7 linked regions of the Homo sapiens genome follow. The protein of the gene in region 3 purifies or fractionates together with the protein of the main gene of each other region. This does not show direct contact. Each region holds a gene or a part of one and is shown on either strand. Other genes may lie near its edges. The genes, in order: PHAX, ZMYM3, ADNP, SCAI, MGA, SOAT1 and ZNF292.

Evidence for each region.
Region 1: the proteins of ADNP (region 3) and PHAX fractionate together in Homo sapiens (co-fractionation; one large-scale study listed by BioGRID). This does not show direct contact.
Region 2: the proteins of ADNP (region 3) and ZMYM3 purify together in Homo sapiens (affinity purification with mass spectrometry, with the first as the bait; one large-scale study listed by BioGRID). This does not show direct contact.
Region 4: the proteins of ADNP (region 3) and SCAI purify together in Homo sapiens (affinity purification with mass spectrometry, with the first as the bait; one large-scale study listed by BioGRID). This does not show direct contact.
Region 5: the proteins of ADNP (region 3) and MGA purify together in Homo sapiens (affinity purification with mass spectrometry, with the first as the bait; one large-scale study listed by BioGRID). This does not show direct contact.
Region 6: the proteins of ADNP (region 3) and SOAT1 purify together in Homo sapiens (affinity purification with mass spectrometry; one large-scale study listed by BioGRID and IntAct). This does not show direct contact.
Region 7: the proteins of ADNP (region 3) and ZNF292 purify together in Homo sapiens (affinity purification with mass spectrometry, with the first as the bait; one large-scale study listed by BioGRID). This does not show direct contact.

What each region holds. Positions count from the first base shown.
Region 1 is NC_000005.10:126,607,447-126,610,946, reverse strand, and holds part of PHAX (phosphorylated adapter RNA export protein), read right to left. Parts: intron 2,584-3,500; coding exon 2,463-2,583; intron 1-2,462. UniProt on the Homo sapiens protein: A phosphoprotein adapter involved in the XPO1-mediated U snRNA export from the nucleus.
Region 2 is NC_000023.11:71,244,141-71,247,640, forward strand, and holds part of ZMYM3 (zinc finger MYM-type protein 3), read right to left. Parts: intron 3,371-3,500; coding exon 3,205-3,370; intron 2,553-3,204; coding exon 2,455-2,552; intron 2,373-2,454; coding exon 2,213-2,372; intron 1,959-2,212; coding exon 1,846-1,958; intron 1,703-1,845; coding exon 1,528-1,702; intron 1,346-1,527; coding exon 1,199-1,345; intron 754-1,198; coding exon 650-753; intron 331-649; coding exon 162-330; intron 1-161. UniProt on the Homo sapiens protein: Plays a role in the regulation of cell morphology and cytoskeletal organization.
Region 3 is NC_000020.11:50,900,438-50,903,937, forward strand, and holds part of ADNP (activity-dependent neuroprotector homeobox protein), read right to left. Parts: coding exon 3,452-3,500; intron 1,673-3,451; coding exon 1,580-1,672; intron 1-1,579.
Region 4 is NC_000009.12:125,137,029-125,140,528, forward strand, and holds part of SCAI (protein SCAI), read right to left. Parts: intron 1-3,500. UniProt on the Homo sapiens protein: Tumor suppressor which functions to suppress MRTFA-induced SRF transcriptional activity. May function in the RHOA-DIAPH1 signal transduction pathway and regulate cell migration through transcriptional regulation of ITGB1.
Region 5 is NC_000015.10:41,764,905-41,768,404, forward strand, and holds part of MGA (MAX gene-associated protein), read left to right. Parts: coding exon 1-158; intron 159-1,099; coding exon 1,100-2,376; 3' UTR 2,377-3,500. UniProt on the Homo sapiens protein: Functions as a dual-specificity transcription factor, regulating the expression of both MAX-network and T-box family target genes. Functions as a repressor or an activator.
Region 6 is NC_000001.11:179,345,797-179,349,296, reverse strand, and holds part of SOAT1 (sterol O-acyltransferase 1), read right to left. Parts: intron 1,698-3,500; coding exon 1,600-1,697; intron 454-1,599; coding exon 355-453; intron 1-354.
Region 7 is NC_000006.12:87,158,565-87,162,064, forward strand, and holds part of ZNF292 (zinc finger protein 292), read left to right. Parts: intron 1-3,500. UniProt on the Homo sapiens protein: May be involved in transcriptional regulation.

The sequences.
Region 1 (3,500 bases), on a different chromosome or scaffold from region 3:
TTCCTTGAGCTCACAAGTTCAAAACCAGCCTGGGCAACATGGTAAAACTCCATCTCTACTAAAAACACAAAAAATTAGCCAAGCGCGGTGGCACGCACCTGCAATCCCAGCTACTCAGAAGGCTGAGGTGGGGGATGGCTTGAGCCTGGGAGGTGGAGGATACAGTGAGCTGAGATCGCGCCACTGTACTCCAGCCTGGGCAAGAGAGCCAGACTGTGTCTCAAAAAATAAAATAAAATAAGAAAGTAAATTTGAACTTGCATCTTCCCAATATTCAGTAAATCTGCATTAGCTCACTGGAATATAAAGTTTTATCACTACAGTACTAAAATATTGATGAAATCTGTAACTCTGTGTTCAACTGAATGAAAATTGAAGTACTTTAACAATGACACAAATAGGGATGGCAGTGCATTCATGATTATTATAATTTCTTTTGTTGCTAACTTCTGTTTTGACTTCTGTAATTTATGTTCACAGGCTGTTTCCTTAGCCAATGCTATTAATCCTAACTGGGTTTTTTTTCTCCCCATGTCCAAAGCACAATATTGATCTACTCCCTTGTGATGTTATTACAGTATTCAGACTTATCAGTAACAAAAAACAAGGAAGTCATTCAAACCTTCATCCTCACCCTGTGGTGAAAGCTGAATTCAATGAGATATGCCAAACCCTTCTATAACCGCCAGTGCTCGTGATCTGGCCTAGCCAGAGGAGCTCTTTCTGTCATTCTGAAACAGTAAAGAGCTTCTCAAACTTTTCTCCCATTATTGCTCTACCACCCCAGGAACTTTTTAGACTTCCCCCAACTTTCATTCTTATACCCAGGAAATTTTAATACACACAAAAATACTGTATACCTATTTGTACTTTATTGTGTATCTATCTGTGCTTACATAACAAAAGTGTTGACCGGGCACAGTGGCTCAAGCCTGTAATCCCAGCACTTTGGGAGGCCGAGGCAGGCGGATTGCCTGAGCTCAGGAGTTCTCAACCAGCCTAGGCAACATGGTGAAAGCCTGCCTCTACTAAAATACAAAAACTAGCTGGGCGTGGTGGCAGGCTATAGTCCCAGCATACTTGGGAGGCTGAGGCAGGGGAATTGCTTGAACTCGGGAGATGGAGGTTTCAGTGAGCTGAGATCGTGCCACTGCACTCCAGCCTGGGCGACAGAGTGAGATTCCGTCTCAAAAAACAAACAAACAAAAAAAAGGGTGTTTTGTTTTTTTTTTTTGCCCTCTTTTTCAAGAATGCATGAATTAAGTGAACCAAAATGAACACTTCTGTTTACCATTGCTAAAGTGCTGGGCACTGTGGTCAGTATTTCATGTGCACCATCTCCTCTAATCCTTAAAATGTAGGACTAATCTCCATTTTACAGCTGAGGAGACTGAGGCTCCAAGAAGTCAAACAACTTAGCCGAATTTCAATTAGTATGTTGAAAATCTAGAAGTAAAAAAGGGTACCCAAACTCTAAAACCCATATTCTCAAGATCTGAGCTCCTAGGCTCCCCTAGACTTTGTCGTCTTAAAACTTCAACCCTTTGGCCGGGTGCAGTGGCTCACGCCTGTAATCCCAGCACTTTGGGAGGCCGAGCTGGGTGGATTGCCTAAGGTCAGGAGTTTGAGACCAGCCTGGGCAACATGGTGAAACCCCGTCTCTACTAAAAATACAAACGTTAGCCGGGTGTGGTGGTGCATGCCTGTGATCTCAGCTACTTGGGGGGCTGAGGCAGGAGAATTGCTTGAACTCGGGAGGCGGAGGTTGCAGTGAGCCGAGATTGCGCCACTGCACTCCAGTCTGGGCGACAGAGCGAGACTCCTTCTCAAAAAAAAAAAAAAAAAAAAAAATTCAACCCCTACCTTTAACAAATCATGTAAGAAATGTTTTGGTGACTATACGGCAACAGGCTATAATTTATGTTTGTTTGTTTGTTTTTTTGTCAGGGAAGTACTAACTGCAAAAACAACTGTACTAATTTTTTTTTCTTTTTATTCTTTTTTTTTTTGAGACGGAGTTTCGCTCCTGTTGCCCAGGATGGAGTGCAAGGGTGCGATCTCAGCTCACTGAAACCTCTGGTCTCTCAGGTTCAAGTGATTCTCCTGCCTCAGCCTCCTGAGTAGCTGCGATTACAGGTATGTGCCACCACGCTTGGCTAATTTTGTATTTTTAGTAGAGACAGGGTTTCTCCATGTTGGTCAGGCTGGTCTCGAACTCCCGATCTCAGGTGATCGGCCCGCCTCAGCCTCCCAAAGTGCTAGGAATACAGGCTTGAGCCACCGTGCCTGGCAACTAATTTTTTTTTAACAGTCTTCATTGTTGATAATAGTTTAAAAACTTCAAACATACTGTAAGAATGCATGATAAATCACAGATCCAACAAGGGCAAAGTTAAATTTGTAATCAAAAACAAAAACACAGGATAAACAATACAAAAACAAAAACAGTTAAGCAGTCTTACCATTATAAAGAGACCACCATTTTGTTCAACTTCAGCGGTTTCCATCAGAAGTTCAATTGCCTTTTTGTTACCAATAATCCTCACTACTCGGGCTATCAGGTCTTTCTTTGGTTCCTGTAACCTGATGAGAAACAAGTAAAATTATCCTCTTTGTTTGTTGTACAAAGTTGAAGAAATCTACCTTAGTCACCAGCTAGAATAAAAATCTGATTCTAGTAACTTTTGGTTTTCTAAATCTTCAATATTTAATCTTGGAATCACTGACATGTAAATATTCCTAATCTTGGGTCACAGAAGGAGATGGTAACCTCAAGTTTCCATCTAAACTCTCATAATTGGCTTATTTGTCTTATTGGATTATAGCAGATTTCAAAATGCACATGCAGCACGATGAATGCAGGTCTGAATGCAAAAGATGATAAAGGCAGTCCACTATTGTCAAAATAAATAACAGACATATATACTTTCAATTATTACGCCTAAAAGCTAAGGCTCACATAATTCCAGAGATGTCTGGAGCTTTAAAATGGGATAGGACCTTTCCCTCATAGACTCCCTGCCTCAGAACAAAAAATAGAAACAGCTAATATTTACTGATGGCTTATTATGATTATAATAAGCACAATCCTAAGAACCTTACATGCACTATGCCAGCTGATTCTCTCAAGAATGTACAAGATAGGTACTATCGTTTTCATTTTGTCACTGAGAGGTTAGAAACATAGGTAGCCTAAGTAATTCTTCCAGTGTCAAAGCTCACACTCTCAACAGATCAAGAATTCAGCTGGGTGTGGTGGCTCACACCTATAATCCCAGCATTTTGGGAGGCCGAGGTGGGTGGATCACCTGAGGTTGGGAGTTCGAGACCAGTCTGACTAACGTGGAGAAACCCCGTCTTTACAAAAAATACAAAATTAGCTGGGTGTGGTGGCACATGCCTATAATCCCAGCTACTTGGGAGGCTGAGGCAGGAGAATTGCTTGAACCCTGAGGCTGAGGCAGAGGTTGCAGTGAGCCAAGATGGCACCACTGCACTCC
Region 2 (3,500 bases), on a different chromosome or scaffold from region 3:
TAATCTACAACTCCTCCCCATCTTCACAGGGCATCCTTAAGGGATCACACCCTTATCACTTCTAGACATCTTCAGCTGAATCACAGGCCCAGCCCCTTCTCCCCTTTCCCCTCCTCCTCCCTGTCCCTGCCTCCCCACACCCCCCATCCCCAAGTACTTACGGCCAAAGCGCAGCTCATCACCCTTGCTGGTTTCTCCATTGGCATATTTTGACTGCACCCAGCACTTCCAAGCATTGACACCATATGAATAGTTGAGCCCGGTACAACTAGGCTGACTGCTCATGGAGTCCCGGGAGCAGCTTTCGGAAAGCACCAGCCGCTTTTGACCCTGGAGGGGAAGAGAAAGCAGGGGCATGGCAGAGGTAAGGCCAGAGGCAAGGTGAAAGCTAGTCAGCACCATATTTACTGCTGGCCGGGGCAGGGGCTGATGTAAGCACACAGCAAGCTTCCATAGCACAGAGCCCCAGGAACAGCTTTGATGACCTTGTGAGATGGGGGGAGAGCAAAGTTTGGCTTTATCTCAGTACTTCTAGTGTTGGAGAAAGGAGGTTAGGGAAGGTCAAACTATGGTTGCTGGCTTGGCTCTCGCATCATCTCCCCTTTGGGCCTCCATTCTTCTTTTGTACATACAGTAGCCCCAGCCCTACCTTCCTCATGGTTCGGGGAAGGTCTTGTTCAGTAGACACATCCTCAGGCCCTACCAGGCCACAATCAAAGAGGAAGTCTACACTGGGATTAATGTCCAGAGGATCTAATGAAAAGGAAAGAAAGAAGAAATCAATTTCTTAAGATCTCAACCCTGCAGCCCTCCTGCCCCACCCCTGCTACTTGCCCACTTGACACTAGATGAGCCAAAGGAACCAGTAAAGCTATACCAAAAAGCATGCTCAGAGGCACAGAAACGCAAAACACAGCAATGTGAACTACTGAACCGTAAACATGTTGAACATGGTAAAATTTTATGTTTTTTTTCAGCTTAAAAATTAAAAAAAAAAAAAAAAAAAAAAAAGCATGACTCAGAAGTCTAAAAGAGTGCACCTGTCCTGGTGTCTCTGGCACTGCTCCCTGTGAGAACCTTCCGTCTTAGAATCACAATGAACACTTTTCAGGGTCATGCTCAGGGACACAAGGGACACTCCCTTCCTGATGGCACAAATGCTACCATACTCAGTGGGCATGGCTCCAATCTTACTCACTCTTAGGGAAGTCTGCCTCCAAGTCTTGCCCAGGCTCATCCAAGACATTGGCCATCTTGACTGCCATGGCCAGGACATCATCTCGAGCAGGCCCAAACAGGTCACAGTCTTCCAGGAGTCCCTCTGCACTCTGGTTGCTCACAAGATCTGGGAAGCAGAGAAGTTGGCTCAGTGGTTACAAGCTCCTGCTAGCACCCTCACAAGCTTTCAGGGACTGATCCCAACTATCCTCCCATTCTACTAGGCACCAAGATCACCAATACCACCCCCTCGGGCAGAGACATGCTGGTAGCACCCTGTCTCCCTCGTCGCCACCATCTATGGCATACCACAAAGGTCAGATGAGGCCTTGTCTAACTCCTCAGCCTCTGCAATCATTTCTGCCATAGCCAGGATGTCGGCCTCCAAGGGGTTGGAAGGGATCTTCACCTTCAGCTCCTCAATGGTCTCTACAATCTTGTCTGTGCTCTCCAAGGTAGTGGGCAAGAACATGGGCACAGGCACCTGGAGGCACGAATCCCAACTAAATGCCAAGAACCACACCAGCAGTTGGGGGGAAGTTGGGGGGACAGATGATGAGTGAAGGGGGACAGTTGATGAGAGTAAGGGGAAAGGAGGACCCAGCCAGGAAGGGCAGGGAAACTCACCGGGATAGGCATCGAGAAAGGCACCGGGACTTTCTGGCAGTACAGATGCATAGGCACTGGCACGAAGATGGGCACTGGGATGGGCAGCACGATCACCTGTGGCTTCCACTCTTCTGTGGATAAGAAAGGGGTCTTCTCAGAGACCCTGCTGGACTGGTCACATCTGACCCACCAAAAGCTCTAACATGCTCAGTGTCACAAAACTGCCCTTGAATCAAAGGCTGAAAGACACCTCTATGATTCTAGGACAACCATATGAATGAGGCTTCAGCTACCTAAGAAATCCCCTTGTCCAGCTCACGGACATAGGGCTGGCAGGCCTAGGACTCTGGAATACAGCCTGTGGCATCGAGGTACCCTGGCTCACCTGTTTGACTTCCTTTGGACTTCATCTCCACCTTGCAGGAGACGCCCCGATTCTGCATCAGTGGCTTACACATGGCAGCCTTGTTTTTGCGGGGTGTTGCTGGGGGTGGTGGGGGTGGAGGGGTGGGAGCAGTGGGAGCTGATCGGGTCTTCACAGGGATCTGCAAAGACAGAGGAACATTTGTGCCACCAACCGCCGTACCCTCCTCTGAGATTATCCTCCCCCTTGGCTTTTGCCCCGACCTTGCCCAAATTCCCATTTTCCTCTGGGGTCCTCACTGTGTTGCTGTTCTCCACTTTGGTTTGAGAGGGTGTCTGGGGTTTTGACTCAGGAGACTGACCTGTAGATCAAAACAAATGAATGCTCTCATCCAAGGGACTAGCTCTCCATTTTCCTTACCCCTGTTCCAGGAGAGCTTCATTAACAGGTACACCAAATACAGATGGGAACTTCTAGGATTTGACCCCCTTGCCATCCCAGATCTAGTCTCCTCTATGCCCCAGCAATAGCAGCCTAAAAGATTATTTGTTCCTGGAGAATGAAACATTACATTTTCCCCCAAAACCCACATTTGAGACCTTCCACTTAGATAGCCTGAAGAGTCTGTTATCCCTGGAGTTGTGGAGGGGCAGGGGTAACATTCTAGAAATAGCAGTCTTCAGTCTCACTAAATGTAGAGTTTATGCTGAGATTTCCTTATCTCAGAAACGTAACCATAACCCCTATATGCTCCATCCTACCAGGAAAGGCACCCACTCCCTAACAATATATATTTCATAGACAATCAGTAGATGCTAACTCCAAGAAGCTTTAAATAAGACTCCCCCGGTACCTGCAGGGTTCGGAAGCTAAAAGAGAATACAGTTCACAGTACTAGCACCCTATCTGGCCAGGGGTGAGCTGAACGCAAGAGGAAGGAGAAAGGGGCTAGGCTTAGGATTAGGAGAGTCCAGGCTCCCTCTAACAGAGTGTACCCCCTGCCTGGGACTCACTGTTCAGGAGGCTCTCGGGCCCACTCTGGGTATCCAGGTTGGGTTGGTTCTGCTGGCTATAGAAACGCAGAAGACACTGCTGGTTGCAGAAATGACGGATCTGCCCACGCCAGTGGATGGTCTCCAGCAGCTTCCCCTGGCGCTTACACGCATGGCACCGGGCAGCCTGAGGATGTCAAAAGGATGGTCAGACCTGCCTCCCTAAAATGCGTTGGGCCCTTTCTTTCCCCCGGGATAAGCCATGCTCCTCCCCTTGGAGATCGGGCCAGCTTAGAGATGGAAGGCTGGCTGCCCTC
Region 3 (3,500 bases):
CAATGCACGACGGTATTATACGCTGTAAATAACTGTATGTGCTATACTTCTATGACTGGCAGCACAGGTGTGTTTACATTAGTATCACTACAAACATGAATCATATGTTGCGCTATGATGTCATAAGGTAGCAAGTTTTTCAGCTCAATTATATTCTTATGGGACCACTGTCGTAGATGTAGTTCATCACTGACCAAAATGTCGTTATGTGGTGAATGACTGCGGTAAAATTCAGGGCCCACGATGTTTTAGTGCAATTAGACAATTACAAGAGATAAAGCTATATCTTTTATTCCTTTCCTCATTATGGATAAATTTTCATAGAAAAAAGGCAAATCTCCATTTTTTCCTCTGATTAAAGTACAGTGTAGTATCAGATTCAGCGCTGATCAAAAGAAAGACTGATTTGAAAAGTTGGCTTTCTTCTATAAGCCTTGCTGTTCCTTCTCAACCAAGAACACTTCAAAAGAGCTAATGAAGTAATAGCTGCTTTGATTCAAATCAAGAAGTTAAATAAAAATGTCCTACAGACTGTGAGGAGGGTGAGGTATTTAAAAGCCAATAATACATTATAGAATATACTGATATCAAAGAGCAACTTTCAGAATTATGATTGTTAACACCTATGCAGTCAGTCCTTTGATGAAGGCAGGTGAACTGACATGCTTGGTAAGAGATTATCTTTTCTCCCTAGAAACCTACTTGTTTCAGATACTGGTTTGAACCATGATGAAATACTCTGCTTCTCCTCAAAGCTCAACTCTTCTTTAGTATTCAGCTATGAGGCTTTCAGATTGATAAAACTGAATTAAATAAATGATGTGTCCCACTGGAAAGCATTCTCATTCTAAGACTGCTGGTTAGTAACTTTGCCTGGGGTATTTAAAAAAAAAAAAAAAAAAAAAAAAAAGTCAAATATCTGAGTACTAATTTCCTGAAAAGTATGTTCCGATAGATGAACAGATCATTAATGCAGAATGAGAATCACTCCTAAAATAGGTAATGGTAAAAATTAAATTGACAATTACCTCTCTCTATGCAGAAGGAAATATCACCTATATGACATCATCATCATCTATTGATACTTGCTGGCAGTGCTAATATTGTTTTTAATGCCAATTTGTAAGAAGTTTTATCTCTCTGTCACTGACATCCTACAGAGTCACTTCCCCAGGCCTCCCATAGAAGTTGGGTGCCATCAACATAGGGAAATAAGAAAAGCTTAAATGTAAGGAAGGGTCTTGTCTTTTTCTGTGCAGAAAAAACAAGAATGGCAACACAGATGCAGAAAAATAGAGCCAGAGCACTTTTAGGGGAAATGGTGGGATACAGCAGGCTTCGTAACTTTTAAGTAACAAAATTTTGTTTCTTCTTACACCTCAAGTTTTAGTCCAATGACAAAAAAGGACAAAAAGTTTTTCTTAGTCTTCCCACTGGTCAGGAAAATATGAAATGCAATTTTGACACTTTCGATGTTTGGCACTTGCCCGCAATCACTGCACCGCTATAAAAGGCCTAGAGCTGAAAAGGGAGTATACCAAGCATGCTGCCATCTGAGGAAGTCTCCTGTGCCACTTACCTGGTTTTTCGTAAGTGATGGGTCCCACAGTCCTACATCCTCCCATGTAGTGTTTTTCAAATAAAAGTCATTAGGTTCAAATTGTTTAAAATCCTAGAAAACAGTGAAATAAGTTTACAAAAACATAGTGGTATAAACGCTAACCCAATCTTACATGTAAATCTCACCTCTTAACTAAGATGGGGAGAGGCACAGGAAAACCAACGTCAACAAGGACTTAAACTAGGAGTGATAAGGCTCTTAAATATAAAAAGGCATATGGAAGTTGCAGTCTACATTTTATATCAACCAACCACTTTCCTGATGGTCAGTCAGGTTTCCAAGGAAATTGCTGGAAGTTCTAATTAAGTAAAAAATTCAGCCACACACTAATATCAAAGCACTTTTCATTAGAGTACTGTACTCTAACTCGTCAGTTACAGTACTGGAATGGTGTCTAAAATAGCAATGTTTGCTTACAGCACTGCAAATATGATTTCTGGTTCTGTGCAAAAAAAAGATTTTTTTCGAGGGGAGGGGGCAGGAGATCAGATCAGGAAGAAAACTCAAATTTCAAACCCAAAAAGGCAGAAAGAAAGCTATTCAAAGAAAGTTAAGCAGTATGATGTTAAATTTATACTCTCATGTAAAAATTTAATGGTCCACTTCCCTCCAGACTAGGAAGATTAAAAGTCTTAGGGTAAAATCCCACTTGTTCCTAAAAAGTTCACAGTTCAAGGTGGAAAATGAAGTCTACACATAAATAATCATAGGAGGAACAAATCAAATGCATGACAGAAATGTACTGTGATGTTGGTATTAATTATTTCTATGAAGATGACCCCACAGAGTGCAAAGTGAATGGACTGTTTCATTTGGGCAGATCTACCTGAACTCTGGGGTTGGAGAAGGGCTACTTCCACACTTGGAACAACGTGACTAGAGAAGTCAACTTTTGAGCAGCTTCTGTTTCCATGCCATACTCTTCAAGTATTATTAGTGGAACTCAAATTAAGAAAACCTGTTGTATGAATGAATTTGCTTTTTTACTTCCAATTCCATTCAAACACTTACTGATCACCTATTACGTGCAAAACACTGTGCTAGGTGCTGGGGCTAAATGGATAAACAAGGTAGCTATGTTCCCTAGCCACCTAGAACTTAAAGGTTAGTGGGGGAAACAGCTTCAAACATTTCTTTTCAATCAGGGGCTCTGACCAACAAACCATAAGACCTGGAACAGTGAGATGTTGAAAAGGAGACCACTGCATGGCTATCCCACAGAGCTGTTATAAAGCTCATAGAATAAAACAGCTTGAAAAACAGTTCATAAAGCCCAAACTGTTATACAAGGGGGAAAGTAATAGTCTATGATGGGTCAAAAGGGGCAACAAATGCTCAAATCCTAAGGAAAGAGACAACAAGCACCCACACAAGCACGCCTCAACAATTAGAAGAAGGTCAACCAGAACATTCAGGCGTATCAGAATGAGAACAGGCTTTGAGTCCCACAGACACTGCCACTTTCTCAGCTGCAAGGCTGGGCCTATTTATTTGTTCTTCATCTGTGAAGTGGAGATAAGAACTGCTACACTGCCTCCCGCCTCCATGGTTGTTCTAAGGATTAAATGTATAGACAACTTTACGGCACCTAGTTCAACGCCTGACATGCTTAAGTCCTCAATGGTAGCCTTCTGCTTCAGGATGCAAAAATGAAAAAGCCCATTTTAGGGAGAAAGGCACAAGTTAATGCTATTGAGAATGTTTTCGTGAAGCTACTGCTGTGGCTGAAATTCAGAATCACATCTAAGATTTAGCCATCTTGGCCACTGACACAAAGTAATGGATCAGAAGCTGAGTCATGTTAAAATTTAAAAATGACATGCTACTTACTTCTATATGTTCTTTACAGTATTCCAACCCAATGTCACTAAGTATTTTT
Region 4 (3,500 bases), on a different chromosome or scaffold from region 3:
TGACAGGTGTGAGCCACCGCGCCCGGCCTAACACCTATTTTTTTAAATATCTGGCTACAACCATTACATCCTTATTCTATAATTCATCTTTGGGGTCTTAACTGTACATTTTGTTTTCTAGTTTTAGAGCAACCCCTGCACTGTTTTCTGAGGAAAATCTTGGTCCTGCCCATAGGACCTTTAAATACATGTGCTGGTTGTCCATTCAGGTCAAAATGCTGACATGATCAGGATCTAACCTAAATCAGGCATGCTGAATATGTAGCCTCATGATTCTGGACTGAGAAAATAAACTCATTGCAACCTGATGCTTACTTAAATTCCTGGAGAATTACTAAAGGATTTGTTCACTCAAAAATTCAATAAACTGTTCTCTACGTGCCAGATGCTATTCTAGCTGCTGGGGATAAACAGTGAACAAAACACGTATAGTCCCCACAGTGTACGCATCCCTCTTTACCTCTGAATCAAGCCAAACCATCAGAGAGCCATATACCAAAACCACATTGCTTTGGCCCCGTGGAGACTGTTCACTGGCAATAACTCACTTGGATTGAGAAGTATAAGAAGCAATCTTTATTTATTTATTTAAGACGGAGTCTCACTCTGTTGCCCAGGCTGGAGTGCAGTGGTGCAATCTCAGCTCACCGCAACCTCCACCTCCCAGGTTCAAGAGATTCTCTGGCCTCAGCCTCCTGAGTACCTGTGATTACAGGCACGCGCCACCATGCCCGGCTAATTTTTTGTATTTTTAGTAGAGATGGGGTTTCGTCATGTTGGCCAGGCTGGTCTCAAACTCCTGACCTCAGGTGATCCACCCGCCTCAGCCTCCCAAAGTGCTGGGATTACAGATGTGAGCCACCACGCTTGGCCAAGAAGCAATCTTTAAAAACTCACGTTTGATTTTAGAGATACCATGAATCTGAAAACTGAACTTTATTTTCTTCTTCATTTTACTCCAGAAAACTCAGAGCCAAACACCAAAGCAACCATTAGCAATGATGCAGGACTTTCCGGTCCATGCACTAATTCTGCCACTGGCTTTATCTGCTTCTTTCATTTCTTCTTGGCCTTTATTTTTAATCTTCTCATTTTGAAAAGAAGTGGGAAATAAAAGATATTTGATGGGTGTTTTTTAACCTAAAATTTATTGTGTACCTTCTATGTGCCAGGCACTATCCTAGGCACCTTACAACCTTGGGGAAGTCGAACTATTATTTCTTTTTTTTTTTTTTTTTTTTTTGGAGACAGAGTTTCGCTCTTGTTGCCCAGGATGGAGTGCAATGGTGCAATCTCGGCTCACTGCAACCTCCACTTCCTGGGTCCAAGCGATTCTCCTGCCTCAGCCTCCCGAGTAGCTGGGATTACAGACATGCGCTACCACGCCCAGCCAATTTTTTTTTTTTGAGGCGGAGTCTCGCTGTCGCCCAGGCTGGAGTGCAGTGGTATGAGCTCAGCTCACTGCAAGCTTTGCCTCCCGGGTTCACGTCATTCTCCTGCCTCAGCCTCCTGAGTAGCTGGGACTACAGGCACCTGCCACCACGTCCAGCTGATTTTTTTTGTTTTTAGTAGAGACGTGGTTTCACTGTGTTAGCCAGGATGGTCTCGATCTCCTGACCTTGTGATCCGCCCGCCTTGGCCTCCCAAAGTGCTGGGATTACAGGATTGAGCCATCGTGCCCGGCCCAATTTTGTATTTTTAATAGAAATGGGGTTTCTCCATGTTGGTCAGGCTGGTCTCAAACTCCCGACCTCAGGTGATCTGCCCACCTTGACCTCCCAAAGTGCTGGGATTACGGGCGTGAGCCACCACGCCAGCAGAACTATTATTTCTACTATATAGATGAGGAAACTGAGGCAGAGACAGGCTTATTAACTTGCACATGATCTCGCAAACTACATTTGACAGAGCTGAATTCAAATTCAGCCCAGACCATTTCATGTAAGTGTATGTACAGGCCATGATGGGACCCAATAAGGTGGAGCAGAGGGAGGGTGGGGGGAAGCCCTCACTGAGCAAAGTCTTAAAGGAGGGGGCTTGTCAAGGAGCAAGGAGAAAGTACTCCAGAAAGAAAAAGAAATCACATACAAAAACCCAAAGCAGACCAGGTACTGTGGCTGACGCCTATAATTCAAACACTTTGAGAGTCTGAGGAAGGCAGATAGCTTAAGCCCAGGAGTTCACGACCAGCCTGAGCAACATGGTAAAACCCCACCTCTACAAAAAATGCAAAAATTAGCTGGGCATAGTGATGCACATCTGTAGTCCCAGCTACTTGGGAGGCTGAGGTGGGAAAATCACCTGGGCCCGAGAAGTCAAGGCTCCAGTGAGCCATTGTCACACCATTGCACTCCACCCTGAAGTGAGACCGTCTTTAAAAAACAACAACAACAACAACAAAAACAACAAAAACCCTAAAAACAAAAAACCAAAGCAAAGAGGGAACATAAGTTCTGGGAATGGCAAATGGAGCACGGAGTTACATTCAGCAATTAATTCATCTTGAAGGTTCACCAGAAAGTTAAATCATTTAAAAGTAGACATTTAATAGTTCCATCATTGAAAATCGATATGGCCAAAGTATTAACCGTGGCTGGGAAAGTATGAAGAAGTAAAATAAAGGCAATTTTTTTATATGATTAGGCTAAAAGTCTGAATGATGTTCAATAAGCAATGAGGAAGCACAGAGGGATCCTAAGCATGAGAATTACAAGATCGATTTGCACAGTACAGGGAGGGAATTACAGATTCAAGGTAGGGAAACCAGTCAGAAGGCTACTGAAGAGTCTGGCAGTGGGGTAATGAGAGTTAAATGAGAGCTATCCAAAAGAAATACAATGCAAAGAAATACAATGCAAGTTAAATGTATGCAGCTTTTAATTTTCTAGTAGCCATATTAGAAAAAATAAAAAGAAAGGCTGGGTATGGTGGCTCACGCCTGTAATCCTAGCACTTTGGGAGGCCAAGGCTGGCGCATCACTTGAGCACAGGAGACCAGCCTGAGCAACACAGTGAGACCCTGTCTCTTACAAAAAATAAAAAGTTAGCCTGGCATGGTGGTGCACATCTGTAGTCCCAGGTACTTGGGAGGCTGAGGTGGAAGGATTACCAGGTCGAGGCTGCAGTGAGCTGTGATTGCACCACTTCACTTCAGCCTTGACAACAGAGCCAAGCCCTGTCTCAGAAGAAAAATAAAAAGGAAAAAGAAGTAAGTGAAGGCCAGGCCCGGTGGCTCACACCTGTAATCCCAGCACTTTGGGAGGCCTAGTCAGACAGAGCACTTGAGGCCAGGAGTTCAAGACCAGCCTGGCCAACATGTTGAAACCCCGTCTCTACTAAAAATACAAAAATTAGCCGGGCATGGTGGCAGGCGCCTGTAATCCCAGCTAATCGGGAGGCTGAGGAAAGAGAATTGCTTGAACCCAGGAGGCGGAGATTGCAGTGAGTCAAGATCACATCACTGCACTCCAGTACGGGCAACAAAGTAAGACTTTGTCTCA
Region 5 (3,500 bases), on a different chromosome or scaffold from region 3:
CACTCCACACACCTCTGCCAACCTTGTGATGACTCCGCAAGGGCAATTGCTCACCCTAAAAGGTCCCCTATTCTCAGGACCAGTGGTAGCTGTTTCTCCTGATCTCTTAGAATCTGATCTTAAGCCTCAAGTTGCCGGTAGTGCTGTGGCTCTACCAGGTATGTTGTAAGTGTTGTCCTCTATGGGAAGTGATAAAGTTATCCCTAACATCTCACGGTGACCAAGGAAGGCTTTGGATGTGTTCTGTAATGATAAAGAGCTATTCTGTTGGCATTTGCCTTGGTAAGAGGTGGCCCTATTTTTAGAACACATTTGGCTTGAGCTGTGGTACTGTTTGGTGTGTTTTACACCTGGTATTGGGAACCATTTTGTGAACACTAGTAATTTCTAAGAGGAAGAATAAAAAAGATATCAGAGGGAAAGGAAGATGTTAAATGATCATGGTCTTAGGTCTTGGTGTTGATAAATATTTGTCACTTTTTGTGGTACTCAGAGATGATAACAGTCCTGCATTATTAGCCCCATTCACTTTGAGCACTACTCTGTTTTGGGGCAAAGGGTAAAGTTGAAAGAGAAGCCTCACTTGGGTGATTAGGTTCCAGGCAACTAAATTTCTATTAAGATGAAAGGGTCTCTTTAGTAATATTAGGATCCTGGTTACTTTATTGCCATTGCCAGCCAAAATTCCTTGTCTCTACCTGTTGCCAAACTCACTCTGGAGGACTCATCTTTCCTGGTTCCCATGCTGCCTTTAGGGCTTCATTTTCTGCGCTAAGTAGCAGTTAATTAGGTGAACAGAATCAAGATGCATTTCTGCCTTAGGAGAAGAATTAACTTGGGGAGCATTTCTATAAAATAATTAAATGGAACTTTAAAAAATGGTGGAAAGAGCCTTTTGGTTGGATTTTAGTTGAGATTTTTCTTGTTGGGTTAGGTCAATAATTTGAAGAACTGATATTTCTTTCATCTTTTTGATAAAAGTAGAGTGCTGAATTTAGACTACAAATCCCTAAGATGGTTATATGATATGACAGAGAGAAAGAGAGGTGTTAACACTAGATCTAAATGAATTTTTCTTTTTTTAATTTTTGTTTTTCAGAAAATGACGACTTATTTATGATGCCACGAATTGTTAATGTGACATCATTGGCCACAGAGGGAGGTTTGGTAGATATGGGTGGCAGCAAATATCCTCATGAAGTTCCTGATAGCAAGCCATCTGACCATCTGAAAGACACCGTCAGGAATGAAGATAATTCCTTAGAGGATAAGGGTAGAATCTCTTCCAGAGGAAACAGAGATGGCAGAGTGACGTTGGGTCCAACGCAGGTTTTTCTGGCAAACAAAGATTCTGGTTATCCACAAATAGTTGACGTTTCCAATATGCAGAAAGCACAAGAGTTCTTACCTAAAAAGATTTCTGGTGATATGAGAGGGATTCAGTATAAATGGAAAGAGAGTGAATCAAGAGGGGAGAGAGTGAAGTCAAAGGATTCTTCATTTCATAAATTAAAGATGAAAGATCTCAAGGACTCAAGCATAGAGATGGAACTGAGGAAAGTAACATCAGCTATAGAGGAAGCAGCTCTTGATTCCAGTGAACTGCTGACTAACATGGAAGATGAGGATGATACTGATGAGACACTGACTTCACTGCTCAATGAAATTGCCTTTCTTAATCAACAACTAAATGATGACTCTGTTGGCCTGGCTGAACTACCCAGCTCTATGGATACAGAGTTCCCAGGGGATGCTCGGCGGGCTTTTATTAGTAAGGTTCCTCCTGGAAGCAGAGCAACTTTCCAGGTTGAGCACTTGGGAACTGGTTTGAAAGAGTTGCCTGATGTTCAAGGGGAGAGTGACTCTATCAGTCCCCTCCTCTTGCACTTGGAAGACGATGACTTTTCTGAGAATGAAAAACAACTTGCAGAACCAGCCTCTGAGCCAGATGTCCTTAAGATTGTTATTGACTCTGAAATAAAGGATTCCCTCCTTTCCAACAAGAAAGCTATTGATGGAGGGAAGAATACTTCTGGCCTCCCTGCAGAGCCCGAAAGTGTGTCCTCACCCCCCACCCTACACATGAAGACTGGCTTGGAGAACAGCAACAGCACAGACACTTTGTGGAGGCCTATGCCAAAGTTGGCCCCTCTAGGTTTAAAAGTAGCTAATCCTTCCAGTGATGCAGATGGTCAGAGTCTCAAGGTGATGCCTTGTTTGGCACCTATAGCTGCCAAAGTTGGGTCAGTTGGACACAAAATGAACTTAACAGGGAATGACCAGGAAGGCCGGGAAAGCAAGGTGATGCCTACATTGGCACCTGTTGTGGCTAAATTGGGCAACTCGGGGGCCTCACCAAGTTCTGCAGGGAAATGAACTTACTTGTCCTTAAGCAGAAGCCAGGCTGTGAGGGGAAATAGATCTCACCTCCTTTCTCTGCAGGCATCTGTTTGTTTGTGTCTTAGAACTTGGATCCTTGACTTCAATGATGCAGTGGATAATGATGGGAGAAAGGGGGTAGGGTGCTGACCCTGGTATAAGAAGTACTCTGAAATTCTGATCATGTTAAAATGTGTTACCTCACTTGTGGTGCTGGGTCCCCTCATCCTCTCTAAGAAGATGTGATCCATTACTGAACATGAGGTGCCCCTCTTACCCAAGGAATTTATAACATGACTCTGGCTCCACAGTGGTTTCTAGTTCTTCCCCCACAAGCGAAAGAGCTGTTTGCAACTTTGGAGTTGCTGTAGACTGAACTGTAGCTTGTAGCTGTTGAATTAAGTCCAAAATCTAAGGAATGCGATGGACTTGTGCAAAGGGATCCAGAAGAGACACTTTTTAGTTGATGTTTCAAGAATAGGGAGAGAGAGGATGGGTACCATGGAATACCAAAGTGAAGGACTTTGTGTCATTCAGTAAAATTTTCTTTTTTCATATCCTAAGTAGCTCCCATTCCCTCACCTTTTCAATCAGAATTAACAAATTCAAGCCTTCAGTAAAGTAGGGATGCTTTTAACTTTTATTATTAATTATTTTGAGATCTTAAAAAAATAGTAGTTCTCCCTTATTATTTTTGTGGGCATTGAAAAGCTCATTTCACAGTACCAGAGATTTTTACTGGGAGTATATATTTTGGAGGTAGGCATAGAGGGAGCCCTACCCCTTCCACAAATTACGTTACTCAAGAGACAGCTAAAATAAAATGCATTATCTCCCCAGACCAGAGACAGTGGCCAAAATAAAAAATCATGGGGCTGGAAATTTCCCAAATCAAACCAGCCTCCTGGTGCTTGAAGGTTTCATTCACTATTACCTGCACAGGATGTAAAGAAAAGTCACAGTAGGCACTCTTTACCAGGGAAATAAGGCAGTATTTGAATCACAAGATATATTTTTTATCTGCAACCATGGATCCAATGATCTGTAGAGCTTTTTCACTCATTAACTGTCAGGATATGAAGGACTGACAGTCTGTAAAGATATTTATATTTTTGTATAGT
Region 6 (3,500 bases), on a different chromosome or scaffold from region 3:
GAAAAAGACCAAAGGGAGATTATTTGTTGGCAACAAGACTCATAAGAAACTATCCATTATTGGTGGATCATTTCAACTCCAACAACCTCCATGCATTCTTACTTTGTTATGTAAGATAAAATTCAGAGCAAAAGACACAGTATTAGACCTACTAGTGTACACACAGTGGTTTCTAAGCAGTACCATTCAAAGCAGGTTTCTAGATGTAAATTTCTCAAAAGAAAACTGAAAAGATACTATCACCCTTTCCTCATGAGCAATTAAATATAACTTCTTCCAGCTGTATAATACTCATACTTTCTGAAAAAGAATCTCCATTTCATAAATAATATCAACTTAAACCTTGCTACTTACCCAGAGAAAGTCCTTGTAAGCATAGTAATATAGCCAGTCATGGACCACCACATTCCAGGTTCTATAATAGTTGGAGTATGACGTGGAGTTCCACCAATCCTGAGGGAAAAAGTAAAGGTATAAAACTACACACACACACACACACACACACACACACACACACACACACACACACACACACATCCCACCCGAAAGCAAACCCCCCTGACTTCCCAAAGAACATATGTAACAGAAAAATCAAATTATACTGTGATAAACTGTTGGTTCATACACTGGTGACAGAAAAATCTTCAAAGGCATTTTGGTTATTAGTGTTGAATATGACATGAATTCTCATACTATATATGATTTAGTTCCTAGGTTCATACGGAACACATAGAATCATTTAAATCTAATGTTCATCTAAACAGCAATCAGTAAGCCCCACCCCCCTTACCCTACTAGAATGTCATGAGAAAATTCTATGGTCATGAAGACCAGAGAGAGTGCTAACACTAGAGAGCTGTTTGGTGGTTACCATAAATGGCAAAATTATCCAGGGTGAGATGGTGGCTACCTCAAAGTCCTGGTATCCCTATATATGCTTCTTGCTCCCAATATTAAGATCAGATGAATGAAATCAGGTATCTAAAATCTGCAATCCACACTTAAAGTTTCTTTGAGAAAAAAGGTGGTAGACTTGGAGTGTTGCCAAAAACAACTCAAAGAGAGCTTTAGGTAGGGTTAAAGAATGCTATGAGCCATTCTGACTCTAATTCTATAGCTTAATTCCAACTTTAGAAGCATAAGGATACTATCTGAAGCAAAATTAACACCTTTCAAAACTAAAGAGGGAAAAGTTATTTCCCTCATGAACTGCTCAATTGTCTTAAATGGAATAATTTGCTGAGGTCATTCCTACAGAACTAGACGGTCCATTTCAAATGAATGAACACTCAGGGAAGTCTCATGGTGTGCTCTGAACAAACAGTTTCCTACTGGAATCACCAATATATCCTTGCAGGATCCAGCAGAAACCATGTGCTTATGTTAAGGGAGCAGATATTAGAGACAGAAGAAAACACAAGGTTATGCTAGTTATATCTGTAACCGAATTTCAGAAAATACTGGCAAAACTTGTAGAAAAGAAAATTATTTCACAATGTTTGTGTGAAAGGCTGGTGACATTAGCCAACAATGTCAAAATACTAATAATGAAGAAGTTAATAAAATGTAAAAAGAAAGCTAAGTCTAAGTATATACTACCTTATAGAACATCCTGTCACCAAAGCGTAACATCTCAGCAAAGGCATTGAGCCAGCAGTGCAAAAAGGCAAAAAAAGTAAGGAAGAGAATCAGCACACCTAAAAATAAGATTAACAATATTAACAGTCTTTCCAAATAGCTCACATACCAAGCAACTAATTATATCACATCATTTTATTTAGCTGGGATTATTTTGTAAAATATAAGTTATTATTCCAGTTTACCCATTCCAGAGATGATATACTTTTGGAGTTAATTATCTTAATTTTAAAACAGTAACTTCCTTCAAAGTGGGTTCAACAAATGACATTACCCAGTCTGGTTTTTTTTTTTCTTTTTTGAGACAGAGTCCTGCTCTGTCACCCAGGCTGGAGTGCAGTGGCGCGATCTCGGCTCACTGCAACCTCTGCCTCCAGGGTTCAAGCAATTCTCCTGCCTCAGCCTCCCAAGTAGCTGGAACTACAGGCATGTACCACCACATCTGGCTAATTTTTTGTATTTTTAGTAGAGACCGGGTTTCACCATGTTGGCCAGGCAGGTCTCAATCTCCTGACCTTGTGATCTGCCCACCTCAGCCTCCCGAAGTGCTAGGATTACAGGCGTGAGCCATCGCGCCCAGCCTACCCAGTCTGTTTTTAAGAAATGCCTAAATATATGGCTTAACTTAGTACCCAAGGTCCTTTAAAAATCTGGCCCCCATACCCCCCTCTTAAACAATTGTTTAAAACTGGGAGAGATTTTGCCCCCTCTCCCCCACAGGACATTTGAAATTCTAGAGACTTTTTGTTTTTAAAAGACAGGGTTTCACTATGTTGCCCAGGCTGAACTTCAACTCCTGGGGCTCAAGTGATCCTCCCACCTCAGCCTCCAGAATAGCTGGGACTACCGGTGCAAGCTACTGCACCAGTGCTGTGACAATTGGAGGAGAGGGAGTGGTGCCACTGGTATCTAGTTGTTAGAGGCCAGGATGCTGCTGAACAGTTTATGCTACAATGCAGAAGAATGCCACTCCAAACAAAGAATTAACCAGTCCAAAATGTTAATAGTGACATGGTTAACATAGTGACATGGATAACATTCTAAACATATCTCCAGTGATTCTACCCTCTAAGTGTTGTAAACATTATCCACAACTGGGTTTATGCCATTCCAGAATGCTCCATGCCCTTGCATCCATCCCACTACCTAGAATGACCTTTCCACCAATTCTCTGCCAGGCAAATACCTACCTATTTTTCAATACCCAATATTAAATGTTATCTCTAATGTGAAACAAAGGCCATAAGCATTTTGTTTATCCTACTTATGTAGTACATATTACAATATATTGTAAAATATCCATTTATATGTCCATCTCTTTCACTCATTTATTGAAAAATATATATTTATAGAGCATCAACTATGTACCAGACAATATGAGAGAGACTGTGATTGGCTATAAAACACAATCCTTGAACTCAATAACTTTGCAGCTAGTGAGGAAGACACTCAAGTATGTAACACATATTCTATTTTAGGGACAGATACAGAGTTCATTCAAATAAGTCCTGGGGCTGGTGAGGGAGGGTTACTGGAAGAGGAATGCAAGAGAAGAAAAGAAAGGGAAGGTGATGACAGAAAACATTACCAACATTCAATGAGTAAAGAAAAGAGGAAAAGTAAGGGAAACTATAAAAGCTCCCAGACTGTAAAGATAATACATCTCTTGTTCACTTCTGAGTCCTCTGCACCTGGCATAGTACTAGGTACTCATATATCTCTATAATAGACAAAAAAATGCAATAAATATATTTAAGAAATCAAGGTATGGTCGGAAAGACAGGAGGAAAATAAGAAATAGTGGCAAAAGGCCAAGCATGGTGGCTCAAGCCTGTAACCCCAGCACTTTGAGAGGCTGAGAC
Region 7 (3,500 bases), on a different chromosome or scaffold from region 3:
TTACGAGGCTGAGGTGGGAGGATCATTTGAACCCGGGAGGCAGAGGTTGCAGTGAGCAGAGATGGTGCACTGTGCACACTCCAGCCCGGGTGACAGAGAAAGATCCTGTCTCAAAAAAATAAAAAATAAAAATAAAATTGTATCTTAGCAATTATCACCTAGCATTTTGATACGAAGTTGAGTGAAGCAATGGTTAACAATTAAAGAATTTATTGGCGCAATCTAAATATAGTACCAGGGATACTAGGAGCTAGAAATTATGTCTTAGTTTCTAACCTTGAGATTATTATTTAACTTTTTCTGTTTAAGCTTTTCCTGTAAAACTGGGATAGTCACACGCTTCAAGAAGGCAAAGATGAATAAACGTTTGTCAAAGTTAATGGGCTTCAGAATTAATATTCTGTCAGTGTTGATGCTCAGTGCTTGTGTAACCCTTAGTTTTGCATTTACTTTAAAAAATGAATTAGTTTACATTCTATGTAATTTTTATGAGCAAAAGTTCAGTTTCTGGAGAATGTGGTGAAACCCACAGAAACAGGAGTTGCTTATGATCCGTAGTTTATAGATTTTTATTTTTGAGTGAGGTAGAAGATTAATAGATTTTTTGAATTCTGAGTAGCAGAATAGAAACGAAAGGCATTAAATGTTTTTCTTATTAACAGTGTTGTTTTGCTCATTCTGGAAATAAGCCACCTGCCCCCCCTTTGCTTATTTAAATGAGAATTTGCTTAAAGCTTAAGTGGGAGGAGGGAAGAGTAAGTAGAGGATGGGCATAGTAGAGCGCCCGTCATAAATTTTAAATTTTTTTATATATTTTATTTTATTTTTGAGAGATGGGGTCTTGCTACATTGCCCAGGTATGATCATAGCACACTACAACCTCAAACTCTTAGGCTCAAGTGATCCTCCTGTCTCAGCTTTCTTTTCTTTCTTTTTTTTTTTTTTTTTTTTTAAAAAAGATGTAGTTTAACTCTGTCACCCAGGCTGGTGTGCAATGGCGCAATCTGGGCTCACCACAACCTCCGCCTCTTGGGTTCAAGCAATTCTCCTGCCTCAGCCTCCTGAGTAGCTGGGATTACAGGCATGTGCCACCATGCCCGGCTAATTTTGTATTTTTACTAGAGACAGGGTTTCTCCTTGTTGGTCAGGCTGGTTCCGCCCCTCTTGGCCTCCCAAAGTGCTGGGATTACAGGCGTGAGCCACCACGCCCGGCCCTGTCTCAGCCTTCTAAGTAGCTGAGACCTCAGGCATACACCACCATGCCCAGCTCTTAAATTTCCTTGTATCTTTTCAAAGTTAGCTTTAATATGGGCAATATAACCAACTCATTTTCTTAAAATTGACTTAGAATAAGTATATAGAATAACCAGAAGTAATTTCTTGCATTTACTTGTTTTAGGATTATTACTGTATTTATTATACAAAAATTGGTTATAATTGGAACCTTTTAGACTAGTTAATTGTATTAGACTGGGCCAGTAGTCACTCATTCAACATTTCTATTGAACATCTACTGTATACAGGCTAGGCAAGGATGATCATGGTCCCTGGCTTCAAAGAGTTTATAGTCTCTGGAGGAAGGTAGACAGATAATCGTAGTAAACTATGATTTATATATTTTATCACTGAGGTGAGTACAGTAAAGAGGGAGGTTATTTGGGAGTTTTAAAAGAAACATTCCAACAGAGGAGTTGTTCTAAAGAGATTTTAAAATAATAGTTCGTTGGAAAAATTGGCCATTGTAATAGTTGATTTGTTGGAGTATGATATTTGCTGACAGCACTATATACTGGACTGGCCGACTGGTTGATTGTAACTGTTATTGACCATTGATCAGTAGTGATCTGGTGGCTGACAGTTGTTTTGAAGGGTTGAATTACAGTCGTGTGTGTATGTGTATACATACGTACATGTGTTTGTATATATATGTGTGTGTGTGTGTGTGTGTGTATATATATGCAAGGACCTAGGTTTAGATGTTACAGAGGATATAAGATACAGGAGACTCTAATAAAAAAATATGTTTGTGTGTATATATACATATATACGATGTGTGTGTGTATACATACATGTATACGGTGTGTGTGTGTGTATATATACATATATATGATGTGTGTGTGTATATATATATATATAATTTTCTTAGTTCATATAAGCAGGGCTTCTCAACTGGGCATAGTACTTTCCCTACCTCCAGTTCTCTCTTTGATGGCACTTAGAAATATGTGGGATCAGGTTTTTGGATGTTGCTATGACTAGGGATGTGGTACTGGCATTTAGTGCCCATGAGCTTCAATGCTAAGTTTTCTGAAGTGATCAGGACCGTCCCAACAAATGAAAGCGTAATTCCTCTAAGTACCCTTTTCAGAAACATTGAACAGAAAGAAAAATAGTATATCTAGAAGATTTTTTTTTTTAGTCCTTCTACTCTTTTCATATTGAGATAGTTAAGCTCCAGAAATATACTTTATTTGGAACAGGTCCAGGTAAATGATATTCAACAATATTTAAGTATAATTTATACTGACCATGAGAGGTCAAGAAACTTTCTACTTTCTTAGCAGAAATTACAAGCAATTGCATAAACAGTTAGTAAAACAACTTTTGCTAGGTTAAAGAGGGTAGCAAATTCAGCATAATTATCCTGATTAAAGAAAAGATTTGACATTTTGATATAATAAATTCTGTACTTTTAAGAAAGCATTTATATGCAAGGACCTAGGTTTAGATGTTATAGGAGATAAAAGATACGGGCAACTAGTGGGATATAAATTAGTAAGATAATATTTAAATATCACTTCAAAATGACAGCTGAAAAGATGTCAAAAGGCAGTGTATTAACTAACAAATTGTTTTGCTTTATTTTTATTTTTTTGAGACAGGGTCTCCACTCTGTCACCCAGGTGGGAGTGCAGTGACACAGTCACGGCTCACTGCATCCTTGACCAACTGGGCTTAAGCGATCCTCTTGCCTCAGCCTGAGTAGCTGGGACCACAGGTGCACATCAACATGCCTAACTTTAAAATTTTTTGTGGAGACAAGATCTCCCTACATTGCCCAGGTTGGTCTCAAACTCCTGTGCTCAAGCAGTCCTCCCACCTTGGTCTCCCAAAGTGCTGGGACTATAGGCGTGAGCCACTGCACCCAGCCTGGTTTTGCTTTTTTGTTGTTTGTTTTGTTTTGTTTTAAATTGAAAATGTACTAATTGAAATGGTTTTTTAAAATTCACCCTGAGAAAGGGCATACAATGAAAACTTGATCTTTTTCCCATTCTAGAGTTCCAGTCTCATTTCCACAAAGACAAATCCCCTAATGGTTTCCAGAACTAGTTTGCTCTTTTTAAGAAAATAAAGATAACTACACTGTATCTTGCTTTCCCTCCCCCCAAAAGCATCTTCTAGCTCATTCCATAGCTGCTCATGTAAGTTTTTGGCTTTCCCTATTATAGTATATAGTAATTCTAGTCTATGGCTGGGTCTAATTAATCAGTTCATTATCA